Homo sapiens: one gene and its partners. The protein of the gene in region 3 interacts with the protein of the main gene of each other region in a pairwise test. Each region holds a gene or a part of one and is shown on either strand. Other genes may lie near its edges.

What was found.
Region 1: the proteins of FAR1 (region 3) and PEX14 come close enough for resonance energy transfer, tested with the Homo sapiens proteins (one large-scale study listed by BioGRID).
Region 2: the proteins of FAR1 (region 3) and PEX26 come close enough for resonance energy transfer, tested with the Homo sapiens proteins (one large-scale study listed by BioGRID).

What each region holds. Positions count from the first base shown.
Region 1 is NC_000001.11:10,481,294-10,484,950, reverse strand, and holds part of PEX14 (peroxisomal membrane protein PEX14), read right to left. Parts: intron 459-3,657; exon of another isoform or gene 1-458. UniProt on the Homo sapiens protein: Component of the PEX13-PEX14 docking complex, a translocon channel that specifically mediates the import of peroxisomal cargo proteins bound to PEX5 receptor.
Region 2 is NC_000022.11:18,084,458-18,088,114, forward strand, and holds part of PEX26 (peroxisome assembly protein 26), read left to right. Parts: intron 1-654; coding exon 655-801; intron 802-3,514; coding exon 3,515-3,618; 3' UTR 3,619-3,657. UniProt on the Homo sapiens protein: Peroxisomal docking factor that anchors PEX1 and PEX6 to peroxisome membranes. PEX26 is therefore required for the formation of the PEX1-PEX6 AAA ATPase complex, a complex that mediates the extraction of the PEX5 receptor from peroxisomal membrane.
Region 3 is NC_000011.10:13,727,668-13,730,413, reverse strand, and holds part of FAR1 (fatty acyl-CoA reductase 1), read right to left. Parts: coding exon 2,731-2,746; intron 1,803-2,730; coding exon 1,640-1,802; 3' UTR 1-1,639. UniProt on the Homo sapiens protein: Catalyzes the reduction of saturated and unsaturated C16 or C18 fatty acyl-CoA to fatty alcohols. It plays an essential role in the production of ether lipids/plasmalogens which synthesis requires fatty alcohols.

The DNA of each region.
Region 1 (3,657 bases), on a different chromosome or scaffold from region 3:
ACGTGACTGCATTAATGTGGGTGAGATACGTCGTGGTAATGTCCACTTTACTAAGAGACTCTCTCTTCTGCTGGCTTTGAGGAGGCAAGTGGGAAGACTCATTTGGCAAGAAACTGAGGGCGGCCGCTGGCTGACAGTAACACACTAAAGTCTCCAGTCTCATGGTCCATAAGGAACTGAATGCCACCAACAACCACACAAGCTAGGAAGCAGACCCCTCCCTAGTCAGCGACCACAGTCCTGACAGATTTCTCAATAGTAGCCTGGTGAGACTCAGCCCAGTGGTTTCCTGACTCCTGACCCACAGAAACCATGAGATAATCAATGTGTGCTGTGCCAAGCGGCTAAATTTGTGGTAATACTGTTACGCAGGAATCAAAAACTACTACAAATGTCCATCAACTGGTGAACAGATCAACAAATTGAGATATAGCCATCCATACGATGGAATACTACTCAGCGGTAAAAAGTAATTCATGGTCAGGCGCAGTGGCTCACGCCTGTAATCCCAACACATTGGGAGGCCAAGGCAGTTGGATCACATGAGGTCAGGAGTTGGAGACCAGCCTGACCAACACAGTGAAACCCCATCTCTACTAAACAAAAAAAAATTGGCTGGACGCAGTGACTCACACATGTAATCCCAGCACTTTGGGAGGCCGAGGTGGGCAAATCATTTGAGGTCAGGGGTTCAAGACCACTCTGGCCAACATGGTGAAACCTTGTCTCTACTAAAAATTCAAAAAAATTAGCCAATTAGCCGGCCATGGTGGTGGGCGCCTGTAATCCCAGCTACTGGAAGGCTGGGGCAGGGGAATCTCTTGAACCCAGGAGGCAGGGGTTGCAGTGAGCCAAGACTGAGCCACTTCACTTCAACCTGGGCAACAAGAGCGAAATACCATCTCAAAAAAAAAAAAAAAAAGGTAATTCATTACTGATAATTACTGATACATACCATAACACAAATAAATTTCACAAACATTATTCTGAGCCAAAAAAGACATAAAAGAATACATAATTCATTCATATGAAATTCTAGGAGGGACAAATATACTCTATAGTAATAGAAAACAGTTCAGATTTCCTAGGACCACAGGCAAGGATTCAATGGGAAGGGGCGTAAGGGAACGTTTAGGGATACTGAAACTGTTGATCTTGCTTGTGGCAGTGGTGGTTACACAGGTTTAGGGTGGTAGTGGTTACACACGTATATACAATTTGTCAAAACTCAAACTGATCACAACACACCTATTAGAATTCCACAGTAAAGTTTAGGCCATAAGACTTTGTCAGTCAATACAATATTAAACTAAAATACTAAAAAAAAACTTGGCCAGGCCAGGCGCAGTGGCTCACGCCTATAATCCCAGCACTTTGGGGGGCCGAGGCGGGTGGATCATGAGGTCAGGAGATTGAGACCATCCTGGCCAACATAGTGAAACCCCGTCTCTACTGAAATATAAAAAGTTAGCCAGGCATGGTGGTGCACACCTGCAGTCCCAGCTACTCCGGAGGCTGAGGGGGGAGAATCGCTTGAACCTGGGAAGTGGAGATTGCAGTAAGCCGAGATCATACCACTGCACTCCACCCTGGAGACAGAGCAAGACTCCATCTCAAGAAAGAAAAAAAGAAAAACTTGGCCATGTTCACACCTGTAATCCTAGCACTTTGGGAGGCCAAGGCAGGAGGATCACTTGAGCCCAGGAGGTCACGACTGCAGCGAGCCATGACTGTGCCACTGCACTCCAGCCAGGGTGACAGAGTGAGACCCTGTCTCAAAAATTTAAAACAATACTAGCAAAGTTGCAAAGAAAGCAACTAATTTAGCAAGTTAACTTTATGATGGAGAAATGTGATAGACACCACCTTAACCAAACAATCAAACTTCATCTTCGACAATGGGACTCGTTCCTCCAGATATGATACACAGATAGACACAACGTCACTTACATAATATTCTCACAAAAGAATGTTTAACCCGGATCTAAATGTAAGGGAACAAATCAGACAAATCCAGATGGTGGAACATTTCACAAAACAAGTAGTCCAGACTCTCCAAACATGTCAATACCATAAAAAATAAAAAACGTAGATGAACTCACCAGAAATGCACATATTATGTTCACAAAAAGACACGTACAGGTATTTTCACAGCAGTACTATTTGTAATGACCCTAAAGGTGAAACAATCTAATGTCCATTAAAAGTAGAATGGCTCAGGCCAGGCACGGTGGCTCATGCTTGTAATCCCAGCACTTTGGGAGGCCAAGGCAGGTGGATCATGAGGTCAAGACATCGAGACCATCCTGGCCAACATGAAGAAACCCCATCTCTACTAAAAATACAAAAATTAGCCGGGCATGGTGGCACATGCCTGTAGTCCCAGCTACTTGGGAGGCTGAGGCAGAAGAATCACCTGAACCCGGGAGACGGAGGTTGCAGTGAGCTGAGATTGCGCCACTGCACTCCAGCCGGTGACAGAGCGAGACTCCATTTCAAAAAAAAAAAAAAAAGTAAGATGGGCCACCCGCAGGGGCTCACGCCTATAATCCCACCACTTTGGGAGGCCAAGGTAGGTGGATCACTTGAGGTCAGGAGTTCGAGACCAGCCCGGCCAACATGGTGAATCCCCCGTCTCTACTAAAAACACAAAAATTAGCCAGGCATGGTGGCCAGTGCCTATAATCCCAGTTACTCAGGAGGCTGAGGCAGAAGAATCACTTGAACCTGGGAGGCAGAGGTTGCAGTGAGCCAAGATCATGCCACTGCACTCCAGCCTGGGTGATAGAGCAAGACTCAGTCTCAAAAAACAAAAAGTAGAATGGTGGCCAGATGTGGTCACTCACACTGGTAATCTCAGCACTTTGGGAGGCCCAGACGGGCAGACTGGTTGAGCTCAGGAGTTCAAGACCAGCCTGGGCAACATGGCAAAACCCCGTCTCTACAAAAAATACAAAAATAATTAGCCAGGTGTGGTGGCATGCGCCTGTGGTCCCAGCTACCAGGGGAGCTGAGGTAGGAGGATGGCTTGAGCCTGGGAAGCAGTTTGCAGTGAGCCGAAATCGTACCACTGCACTCCAGCCTGGGCAACAGAGCCAGGCATTGTCTCAAAAAAAAAAAAAAAAAAGAGTAGAATGGTTAATAATAAATGGCCAAACACATTCATACAATAACTGTATAAAGCAGTGATAATAAACTGTCACTGTTCTCATCATGAATGAATCTCAAAAATATGTGTTAAGTAAAAGAAGCCTGGGAGACTGAGGTGGGAGGCTCACTTGAGGTCAGGAGTTCAAGACCAGCCTGGGCGACACAGCGAGACCCGACCTCTACAAAAAATAATTAGCTGGGCATCATAGTGCATGACTATAGTCCCAGCTACTCGGGAGGCTGAGGCTGGAGGATCACTTGAACCCAGGAGGTCAAGGCTACAGTGAGCTGTGATAACACCTCTCCACTCCAGACTGGGTGACAGAGTAAGACCCTGTCTCAAAAAACAAACAAACAAACAAACAAAGTTTAAGGCTGGACGCGGTGGCTCCCAGCACTGTGGGAGGCCGAGGTGGGTGGATCACTTGAGGTCAGGGGTTCGAGACCATCCCGGCCAACATGGCAAAACCCTGTCTCTATTAAAAATACAAAAAAATTAGCCAGGCA
Region 2 (3,657 bases), on a different chromosome or scaffold from region 3:
TGGTCTCAATCTCCTGACCTCGTGATCTGGCTGCCTTGGCCTCCCAAAGTGCTGGGATTACTGGCATGAGCCACTGCGCCTGGCCTGAAAGGTTCTGAAAGGTTTTAAAAAACTTTTACAAAGATGCATTCAATATAGTAAATAATATATAGTCAAAATAAGTAATAAACACGAGGAAAACAATTTATATTCATGAGATTTGCAAGAGTATGTGCAGTTAAGGAATGAAGGCTTTAGCCAATACCTAATACCCTTTTACTAAACTCTTTTTTTTTTTTTTTTGAGACGGAGTTTTGCTCTTGTTGCCCAAGCTGGAGTGCAATGGCACGATCTTGGCTCACTGCAGCCTCCACCTCCCAGATTCAAGTGATTCTCGTGCCTCAGGCTCCCAAGTAGCTGGGACTACAGGCGCACACCACCACGCCTGGCTAATTTTTGTATTTTTAGTAGAGACGGGGTTTCACCATGTTAGCCAGGATGGTCTCGATCTCCTGACCTTGTGATCCACCTGCCTCAGCCTCCCAAAGTGCTGGGATTACAGGCATGAGCCACTGCGCCTGGCCTGCTCAGGTCTTAGAAGCAAGCACAGAGGTCGGGGTCAGGGAAGCTGATTCCCATGACATCCCTGAAGCTGTGCTCTGTCTCCCTGGCCAGGCTCTGTCTCCCACAAGTTCCTGTCACTACCGATGTTGGTTCGCCAGCTTTGGGACTCTGCGGTGAGCCACTTCTTTTCTCTGCCCTTCAAAAAGAGTCTCCTGGCTGCCTTGATCCTCTGTCTCCTGGTGGTGAGATTTGATCCAGGTAAGAGGTGGAGACTCTCCCCTGTCCTTCCTGGGAAGGGGTTGTTGCCAGGGCTGGGCCTGTGGGAGTGGGTGTTTGTCAGAGTCCTACTGGGGAGGGGAGTCTCTCCTATGACATTTCCCCTGAGTCTGTTCCACAAGGAGGAATTGCTAGACTGGGCATGAGCCAGCCCCACCCATAAGGAGAGGCCAGTCCTGGAGTCTATGAGAGCAGCCAGGAGAAAGTCCACTTGGCCCTGCTGACTCCTGAACATGGACTGAGTCATAGTCCTCCACTTTTTCTAGGGCTGAACTCTGACTAGAACCTCAGAATTTAAAAAAACTTCCTCTTGGCCAGGCACGGTGGCTCACGCCTGTAATCCCAGCACTTTGGGAGGCCAAGGCAGGCAGATCACAAGGTCAGGAAATCGAGACCAGCCTGGCCAACATGGTAAAGCCCCATCTCTACTAAAGATACAAAAAAAATTAGCCAGGTGTAGTGGCACATGCCTGTAGTCCCAGCTACTTGGGAGGTTGAGGCAGGAGAATAGCTTGAACCCGGGAGGCGGAGGTTGCAGTGAGCCAAGATCGCACTGCTGCACTCCAGCCTGGGCAATAGAGCGAGACTCTGTCTCAAAACAAAAAACAAAAAACAAAAAAACTTCCGCTCATCAGAATATCTACAAAAGTGTTAATTCAAGTATTAATGTCTCATGAAGTGTTAATTCAAAGCAAGTTGTAAATGAAAAACTCATACATTTTAGAAAATGTGGAAAATAGGCCGGACATGGTGGCTCACACCTGTAATCCCAGCACTATGGGAGGCCAAGGAGGGTGGATCACCTGAGGTCAGGAGTTCGAGAACAGCCTGGCCAATATGGTGAAACCCCGTCTCTACTAAAAATACAAAAATTAGCCAGGTGTGGTGGTGCGTGCCTGTAATCCCAGCAACTGGGGAGGGTGAGGCAGGGAGCATTGCTTGAACCCAGGAGGCGGAGGTTGCAGTGAGCCAAGATTGCACTGTTGCCCTCTGGCCTGGGCTACAAGAGCGAAACTCTGTCTCAAAAAAGAAAAAAAAATGTGGAAAATAGAGAAAAGTATAAAGAAGGGCATAGAAATCTGCTACTCTGCTGTGCTTTCAGTCTTTTTCTATGGATATAGAGATTGTAGGCAGTTACATGTCACACATATGCTTTCAAGCATGGCCTTAAATCGCTAACTATTCCAGTTCACAGGAATGCCCCTAAGTAATTTAACAACCCCTATTATTGAACATTTGGGTGATTATTCTGTTTTCTGCCTCGCTGTGAAGAAGGAATGAGCTCCCTAAGTGATATTTGGGAACAACCCCAGTTATTTCCTGAGGATTGACCCCTCAGGTGCATGAAGCCAAACTTGGCACTCGCTCTTTTAGATTTTTTTGTGTTACTCAGTGTGAGTTATGTTCTAATCTCTACTCTTCTCATGAATTTAGACTTAGAATATGATTAAATAAGTTTCAAAATTTAAGAGGAAATCAGAAACCCTTATACTGGTCCCTTCAAATGGTTTGTCTATTTTGAGAAGTGCCATTTGTTAACTTAGTCTTTAGATTCTCCCTGTTTCCCCATTTCTCTTTCTCTTATTCAGTGAGCTTTTTTAAAATATTTATTTATTTATTTTTATTTTTATTTTATTTTATTTATTTAGTTTTTGATACTGGGTCTTTCTCTGTTGCCCAGGCTGGAGTGCACCGGCGTGATCTTGGCTCACTGCAACCTCTGCCTCCTAGGCTCAAGCGATCTTCTCTCCTCAGCCTCCCAAGTAACTGGGACTACAGGCATGTGCCTCCATGCCCGGCTAATTTTTTATTTTTATTTTTGAGACAGAGTCTTGCTCTGTTGCCCAGGTTGCAGTGGCGTGATCTCGGCTTACTGCAACCTCCGCCTCCTGGGTTCAAGCGATTCTCCTGCCTCAGTATCCCAAGTAGCTGGGATTACAGGCACACACCACCATGCCAGGCTACATTTTGTATTTTTAGTAGAGACGGGGTTTCGCCATGTTTGCCAGGCTGGTCTCCAACTTCTGGCCTTAAGTGATCCTCTCACCTCAGCCTCCCACAGTGCTGGGATTATAGGCACAAGCCATCATGCCTGGCCAGCGAGGTTTCCGTCACATAGCTCAGAGTTGTCCTTCTAACCCGTCTGCTGAATGCTGAGCAGGGATCCCCTGTGGACGACTCTGTTTGCTTTACAAAGAAGTCACGAGTTAGCGCTCGGAATGCTCAGTATCATCAGCGTTCATCCCTGGCCACCTCCTGACTGATACAGATTTAGAAACTCTTTATGATTCTTTATGGTTCCCGTAAGCCCTTTAGTCTCGTAAACCCTGGTCTCCTAGTGGGGATGGCATGAGGACATTTGAGCCTGCTCTTTCCAAGGCTGCTTCAGAAGGGCCTGGCCCAGTGGCCCTGACCCTCAGCAGCAGGCCCGACTCATTGGAGTGATGATGGTGGGGGAGGAGAACCTGCACCTGCAGGCTGAGGATCGCATGAGCCCCAGAGATTGAGGCTGCAGTGAGCTGAACACAGACTGCACTGTACTCTAGCCTAGGTGACAGAGCGAGACCCTGTCTCTAAAAAAAACAAAACAAAACCAACTATGTGTAATTGGTAGTGGAGTCTCCCAGGGTGGGAGATGGCAGAGTGACAGGTGAGAGGGGTGGGACGTTCACTGTAGTCTCCCTCTGCCCTGCAGCTTCCCCTTCCTCCCTGCACTTCCTCTACAAGCTGGCCCAGCTCTTCCGCTGGATCCGGAAGGCTGCATTTTCTCGCCTCTACCAGCTCCGCATCCGTGACTGAGGGTCCCTGCGCACCACAGCCTCTCTGCTCCTCACGTCC
Region 3 (2,746 bases):
ATATACATATTTCTTTTAAAATAATATTTAAAAGTTTTACTACAGAAAATCTGGCTTCAACATGGAAGCATTTTTCCTTTTCAAGATTATACACCTGCATGAAAGTAGGTGATTTCCTTTACATTTAGTTTTTCACAATAGCAAAATAAACTTTTTATACATTGCATTTAAATTGACAAAGAAAGTTAAGATGTAAAGCTCCATGTAACTTTTTGTATTGCGAACTGTTCTCTTTAAACATACTCCAGATACACTGCTGATTATCTAATACAGTACAACTTGATAAACTTAATTAGAAGTGTTATGCTGAACAATTTGTTAAATCAAATGTATGTTAAAACAGTAAGTAGAGTTAACTATTATGATTAAAAGGGAATTTTAATGTATCATTAAAATATACATCAATTTTCTTGCTATTACTTGTTTCTATAACGCATTTCTTTCTAAAGCTAAAATCACATGCATAAAAAATAAGTGATACCTTCAAACTCATTCAACAGTTTGCTACCTTATGTAGTATGTAAATAAAGTCCTTTATTTAATTTCGTACACATTATCTTAAGCATTATTTTATTTTTCTTGAAGGAATTCATCTTTCAAGGTCAAAATTAGTATGTGTTTACACACGAGTATATTTTTTAATGCTATTACTACCTGCAAATACATTCTTCCATAATAATGCACTTTCAGTTTTCACTGGAAAGATAGCACAAGCCTTTTAAAAGTCCTATGAATAAAATTTATAAAGGGAGGAGAACACAAGTATGGTGAATCCTTCCCAACTCCCACTTCCATCAAATCTCAAGAAATCCTCCTGCTTCAAAACATAAACAATCTCACAAGATTTTTATTTGATCATAATGTGGAAAAGAAAACTGTATTCCTATTCTTTTTGATACTAACAGTTTTACGGAATTTGTTTTCACTTTCTGTCAAAAAACACGTATGTTGCTGATATGGATTCTCAAACCCATTTAGATCGAATAGGGTCATTAGAATAATATAGCCTTCTGATTTTAAAAGCAACTGATTACTTATAGAAAAATGATATGCATCAGACGTTTAATCAGAAAAAGAAAAATGAGAACATCTCTTTCATGTTTGATATCATTTAACTTACAGAATGATGTGAAAATACGCTGGTTATAATTTTAAACAAAACTAAAACCCACTTCAACTAATGAAAAAAACAAAAAATGAAGAATCAAATATCTACCAACTTTGCTAGTATTACTGTCCAAATAAATGTCTTCCATTGCACTGAACATTAGAATTAGAAATTCACTATATGTTAAGGCATATTATTTTAATTAATATGTTCCAGAATTGCACAGTTATACTGGTCAGTGTTCCTATTTCCCCACTCTTGTCCTCAGCACACCCCTTTCTTCTAGGGCTCAAAATATTAAGTCATGGTTTTGGTGGCTACTGTAGATTTGAGCTGGCATAACACAGTGTGTTCACTAAGTTTTATGAGCATAAACATTAAAATGTTACATAAAATATACCATAATTTACTTCACACTCCGATCTAAGATGGTTTAATGTCTTGACAAAAAGTGAGATGACTTATACATTTTACATTTTGTACATTTAGATCACCATATGTATAGATGTTCTAATGCTGAATCCTTGGTCTTCAGTATCTCATAGTGCTGGATGCTCGGAAGTATGACAAAAACTTGTAACACAGACTAACCACAAAGTACCAGATATTTCTTGCCATTTGTGATCTTGCAATAAAAATGCGCCAGATGAGGATCACAAGGATAGTATTAAAACCATAACGTATATTCCGCAACCTGGAAAGCAAATCAAGAGATATGTTAGACAGTATTTTCTAGAAAAAAATATTGTTAGATGGCAGCTAATTAATACTGAGTTTTTAATCAAAGCTCAAATCCATATTAATTTGAAACTTATGATAGGCATTAAGTATACTGTAGGTAAAACAGATATGTACCTTGAATTTCTAGAGCTTCCCATCTAATCTAAAAAGGTTCATTCATTACATACATCACAGTACAGACAAAATAGAGCAAACTTTTTTTTTGACATCTTTAGTTGCTTACAAGTTGTCAGACAAGTAACTTACTCTTTCAGTTACAGGTGACAGTCACAAGATCAAAGGCCAAGTGGATAAGCCCTTATCCAAGCATAAAACATGGCATTAACTTGATAAAGGAGGATCCTCCCTTTTCTCAAAGAGTAACAATATGTTACTCTCATGTTTCAGCTCATGTTTCAAAAAATTTTGATGTTTCTGATGGTGTTTGAAAGAAATACAAACCTTTAGAGATGTAATAATGTTACATAAATTATACTGACCTCAGCAGGCAGTGCAAGATAGGACGGCAATGTAAGAAAAATGATGTAGAGAAAAGAGGTTCGAATATGGAGTCAAAGATCAATATTCTAGTTTGCTTTGCCACTCAATACAATATGGCTTAGGCAAATATAACTTTCCTAAGCCTCAATTTCCTCATCTATAGAACTGGCTGCCCTGCAAAGTCGCACAGAGTTATGAGGCATGAGAGGGATAATAATGTGAAAGTCTTAAAAAGTGTCATAAAAATCACATTAAAAAGCACTACAAATATAAGAGATTACCATTAAAAATTATCTGCATCTTTGAATGACAGATATAGCAAATATACCAGTTTACCAAAAAAATTGTGGAATATTTCATAAGGAAGACAAGAAGCAATCAAATCCATGCATCAAACTCACTTGTTCAGATGTTTTC